Regions from separate parts of the Homo sapiens genome. Here region 1 is linked to region 2. The links come from fine-mapping of genetic effects on gene expression. A gene starts in region 2. The other region holds a variant in brackets. All regions are shown on one strand. Distances are between the middles of the regions. Region 1 overlaps PCBP2 (poly(rC) binding protein 2). Region 2 holds the start of RARG (retinoic acid receptor gamma).

Region 1 (2,500 bases), 240 kb before region 2:
TAAATTACATGAAGGGCAAGCCTATCGAAAGAACAAAACAAATTCCAGCTTTCAAAAACCTGATTCTTGCCACTGAAAACTGAAAACTTCTTGCCCTCCAAAATCCTAATTACAAATAAGAAAAACAAGCTGGGCATAGTGGCTCACGCCTGTAATCCCAGCACTTTGGGAGGCCGAGGCAGGTGGATGACAAGGTCAAAAGATCGAGGCCATCCTTGCCAACATGGTGAAACCCCGTCTATACTAAAAATACAAAAATTAGCTGGACGTGGTGGCACGTGCCTGTAAGTCCCAGCTACTTGGGAGGCTGAGGCAGGAGAATCACTTGAGCCCAGGAGGCAGAGGTTGCAGTGAGCCGAGATGGAGCCACTGCACTCCAGCCTGGTGACAGAGCAAGACTCCGTCTCAAAAAAAAAAAAAAGAAAGAAAAACAATTCTTGTAATCCCAGCACTTTGGGAGGCATATCACTTGAGGTCAGGAGTTGGAGACGAGCCTGACCAACATGAAACCCTATCTCTAAAAAAGAAAAAGACCTCTTTGCAAACAACCTTGGTGCAAAAGTTTACTACTACCATTTCATTCTCAACATTAAGGACCTAGTGTGCTTGGTGGGTGGACAAGAAAACAAATCTAGGAAAGGGAAAGCTTTTCTACACAAAGAGTAGTAGCACCTCAAGATATGAAGTCTTAAGGCAAAAGTCAGACTGCTACTGGGGAAATGGTATGTTCTTAGCTAGCACTAAATAACCATAGCATATATACATGGTCAGTACAAGCACAATACAGACCACATACTTAGGAATTCCTTTCCCCTGTACTAGATTCAGGAACTCATGTAAAACTTTTATGACAAAGAGATTAAACACTTATAAGAAAGGTAAATGATAACTAGACAACATTCCCTATTAAAAGAGACCTAAGGGCCTCAAGGCTAACAATGCTTTGAAATATTAGTAAGCAATTAAGGGTGTGACTTCAGCCCATGAGTTGAGAAAGCAAGTAATATAAATGACTGTAGGATCCCATTTGACTGTGAACAGTGTCCTAAAATTGAGAGTAGTAACACTACCTAGCTATGGATAAGGGAAATAAAACCCTCAGGAAGTCATTAAGGGATGAGATTGGGGGAGGAGTGAGATAGAAAACACACTTCACACTTCCGAAACATTCCAATACCTGTGCTTCCCACATTCCCACAAGCTCTGAATAAAACACACATGCAGTGTGAGAAAAATGGGTGTTTCCAGAATAAATGGTAATTGCTGCCTCCCAGAAACTGCCTTGCTGTCCTATTACTCCAATGTCCTTATTACAATTAAGGGTGCTTTGGACTCCAAATCAAATCAGTGAAAGAAATAGTAGTCTATATGCTATGTAGAACAAGAGAGACCCACATTTGATTTTGTGAGTGCTCTAGCCAGAGGACTCTTACTGAAGACAAGGACCACTCTTCCCTCTTACCAAACCATCAAGTTAAATGCGGGCAATCTGTGCTCCCCCCCCC[A/CA]CCAACCCCTTGAAAACTTACTGCAGTTTACTTTTTCTGCTACACTCTAAGAAAGTAGAGCTAGCAAAAAAAAAAAAAAACCTTTTGGCCATCTTTACCCATCGCCCATGTAATCCCATATTTAATACACTGCAGCTCTCCCCAACACACACATTACTGTGTTGGCATAAATAAGACAAAAGGTAGAGCAATCTTACCTGACATTGATTAGATATTGAGCCAGGCTAATGCTGGCAGCAGATCCAGTGATGGTAACCTGCCTATCAGTAGATCCTTCCACTGGGTTCGCAATTTTGATCTGCGCCCCAGACATCTGACGGATCTCATTGATTTTGGCGCCTTGACGCCCGATTATGCAGCCAATCAACTTAAGGGAGAAAGAAAAACAAGGCACACCGAATTAGAGTTGCATGGCTAGGTCTAAGAATCCCACCCCCCCACCCCAAATCCTACGACTGTGGCCAGGCTGGAGTGCAGTGGCCTGATCTTGGCTCACTGTGCAACCTCAGCCTCCTGGATTTGAGCAATTCACCTGCCTCAGCAGGACTACAGGCGCATGCCACCATGCCCAGCCAATTTTTGTATTTTTAGTAGAGACGGGGTTTCACCATGTTGGCCAGGATGGTCTCAATCTCTTGACCTTGTGATCCACCCACCTTGGCCTCCCAAAGTGCTGGGATTACAGGTATAAGCCACCGAACCTGGCCCTTTAAAAAAAAAAAAAAAAACCGAGGGTCTCGCTATGTTGCTCAGGCTAGTCTCAAACTCCTTGGTTTAAGCCATTTTCGAATCTCAGCCTCTGTATCTCTGTGCTCCCTGTAACCTGGGATTACAGGTGTATACCGCCATGCCCAATTTCATCCTACACCCTTTACTCATACACTTTTGATCAAAAAACTCAACTCTTGACCCATTTTTCAGTCTGACCACCCATGGTGAGTGACAGCCAGTTCTGAGCCAACTCAGAACTGTCTTTTAGGTCCAAGAGACATAAT
Region 2 (3,018 bases):
CAGCAGCTAGGCCACCTGGGGACGGGACCCTGGAGTATCTATTCCTAGCTCTTCCTATCCCTGGAGTGAAAGAGAGGGCTTGTCTGCACCCCCATTGCCATCTCCCATTCCCTGAGGTAACCACAGCATGCCTCTTCTTTCCCCCATCTCCTTCACCTGACTTTGGCTACCAAAAGCAGCCTTTCCCAGGAGGGAGGACACCTGGCCCCCAGGGGGGAGCAAGGACAAAGCCAAGTAATTCCAGTATGGAAAATGTGACGTGACCCAGGAGTCTGTGTCCCAGGTCCTGGTCACCCTGCGAGCATTGCTGGGGAAGGTACTTTGGGTATGTCTGTCCAGCCTATCAGCCTAGCTCAGACTCTCCCCTTCTCCTCTTTCTCCCTCCCAACTCCAGTCCCCATGGGAGTGTTTGGGATCCGTGCACAGAGCTTGGACTGCAGACCCATTCTTTTCTCTCCCTCTGTCCTCAGTAGAATGCAGAGTGAAACCACTGGGTTCTCTCACTCTAGGGTTGAGAGTCTGTCTATGTTGAAGCAGATAATGCCCCCATCAGACACAGACACTCACTCTCGGCACTGGCATGCGCACGCGCTTGCACAGACACACACACACACACACGCACACACACACACACCCGGAGTCAACAGCATTCATGGCACATCTACCAGGCAGGCAGGCAGGCAGGCCGGTGCTGGCTAGGGCAGACACACACCCTCTGCCTGGGCTTTCTCTCTCACACCCAGCCCAAGGCTCCTCCCACTCCCAGCCACAGTTCCTCCTGCCCTCCTCTCCAGCCTCTCCCCTTCCAAATCCAGGCCTAAAGGTGGGGGACAACTGGCAGCCAGGGACCCAGGCGCCCTAACTCCTGGAGCTTACTCCAGGCAAGATGACAGGGAAGATGTCTGTGAGCCCTGGCCTCAGCACCCCCAGCAACAGCCACTAGTCAACCAGTTTGCTCCTGGGACCAAAGGACTGAGGTGGGCTAGGGGAAGGGAGAGGCTACTTGGATCTGCAGGTGAAGGCTGAGCAAAGAGTAAGGGCAGGAGCATCTATTCTAGATCTGGCATACTCCTGCCCGGCCAATCCAGCACTGGGAGGGAGTGGGTACCGCCCCATTGCCTACCCTGGGGAGGCGCCAGAGACTGGCCTCGCAAGAGTCACAGCCTGGCCACAGACAACTCAACTAGTCCCCCCAAAAGGCAGAAAGGAGAAAAGTGCCAGAGAGAAAAGGTTGGCATCACGGGGCCAGGACACTGACCTCCTCTGCCAGCCGTGCCCGGCCTCCCAGAGGATGGAGTCACGGAAGCCTAGCAAATGGGAAGGGCAGAGACCCAGGCGTCCCGGGCCGCCCCGCCCAGTCCCCCTCCCGCCCACCCATCCCTCCGCCCCCCAGCCCCAGGGCACAGAGGAGGGAGCCGGGCAGGGGCAGGCAGGGGAGGGAGGAGCGAGGGCGGGAGGGGGAGGAGGGAGTTGGGCAGGGAGGGAGGTTGGGGGGGGGGTGGGGAGGGAGAAAAAGAAAGAAAATATTTTCCGTGTCCCCGCCTGCAGAGTCAGTGTGCGGTTTGGGAGAAAATGTGTCGGATATTTTGGGGCGGTCACGTGGGCGGGCGGGCTCCGAGAGGCCCCGGGACAGTCCCAGCCTAGAGCCGTGCCCCCCCAGGAGCCCCCCAGTACGGCGAGCCCCGGACATTGCGACGCTCCATCCAAGAGACTGCCCGACGCCGGGACCTCGGGGCTCCGCCGCCTCCCTTCCCCCTCCCACTCCAGGTGAGTCAGGCGGGGAAGCAGGCTCGCCCGCCCCGTCGCCTGGGTCCTCCGGCGAGGCGGCTGGGGGAGGGGGCGCGGAGGAGCTGCACGGGCGAATGCCCTCCCGAGGCTGGCCAGGCTGGCCGCCGGGCTTGAGGGGGGCTTCTTGCCCCGACCCAGGCCAGTCCTGCTGTGGGAAGGGAATGGGGAAGATTTTAACAGGCTGAGGATGGGCTGGGTCATCTGCCCTTCATTTTGGTGCATAGCAGAGGACAGCATTTGGGGAAGTCTTCAGCCAGGGGGCATTCCTCCTTATATTTTTGTGCTGGGAATGTGAGAGAAGACAGGGTTTCCTCTCGCGGGGAAAGACTACCACCCCCTTACCCCCGGGCTCTGAGGGGTAGATTTGATGTTCCATGCTGGTCCAAGTTCCTCCCTCCCCAGTGGAATGGGACAGCTTGGACATCAGAAGGCAAGGAAAACGTCCAGAGGCAAGTGAGCCTGGCCCTCCGCGTCCAGGAGTTCCGAAGGACTGGTGCATAGGATAGGGATCTGTGAACTTTCCTTGAAGCGCTGGATTCCCTCCCACACGTTCCCAGCCCAGGTGCGAGCCTTGGCTCCCTCCAGCCAAGGTGGGGGGCACCTCTGGAGTATTCTTGAGGGAAGCCCAAATGGAACAAAGAAAGAGCAGGAAGACCGGGACAGGGACCCAGGAGTGCTGGTCCCAGAGTTCCACTGACGCTGCCTCTCTGTCTTTAGCAGCTACGGCCCAGTTCCCTCAACCTGACCCAGTATGTAGAAGCCAGTCTCTGCAGGCGGCCAGCGGGTAAGAAGATGCTTGGTTGTTAGTGGTGGTGGGGGCAGGGGAGCCTGAGTAGGAGGTCTTCAGGGCAAGAAACTGAGATGACTGTCCCGCTTTAGGGCTCTGGTCCTGGGCAGCTGGAATCCCAATCCTCAAGTCTGAGGCTTCTGCCCTTAGGGTCAGATGCTGAGTTGGGGTCAAGGACCATAGCCAGCATCTCATATCCTTGAGGCAAGTAGAGAGAAGACAGGGGAGTGGGGGTAGTGTGTGCAGGGAGCCTGGAGCTTGGGTATCCCATATAGACAGACATACACACACACACACACACACACACACACACACACACACACACACACGCACTGTGGCCTACAGCCTAGTAGGCAGCATGGGGCACGCCCCCCCACACCCCGGCACACCCCCACCCCTGGCTCAGAAAGCCACCTAACTGGCACCTCCAGTTCCCCCCTCTG

Evidence for each region. PIP is the estimated chance that this variant, and not a neighbour inherited with it, causes the effect.
Region 1: its variant is the best candidate, but not a certain one, in a credible set for the expression of RARG in whole blood (INTERVAL, PIP 0.89).

The regions. Positions count from the first base shown.
Region 1 is chr12:53,471,010-53,473,509 of GRCh38, reverse strand. PCBP2 (poly(rC) binding protein 2) reads right to left here. Exons shown (of 15, transcript NM_031989.5): 14 at 1,703-1,872. Among named protein-coding and RNA genes, the nearest start is that of PCBP2-OT1, 7.8 kb to the right of the region's middle. The variant A/CA (reference allele first, on the strand shown) is at 1,506.
Region 2 is chr12:53,230,723-53,233,740 of GRCh38, reverse strand. It overlaps RARG (retinoic acid receptor gamma), which reads left to right and starts at 1,532. Exons shown (of 10, transcript NM_000966.6): 1 at 1,532-1,767; 2 at 2,506-2,572. RefSeq lists silencers at 1,347-1,396, 1,717-1,846.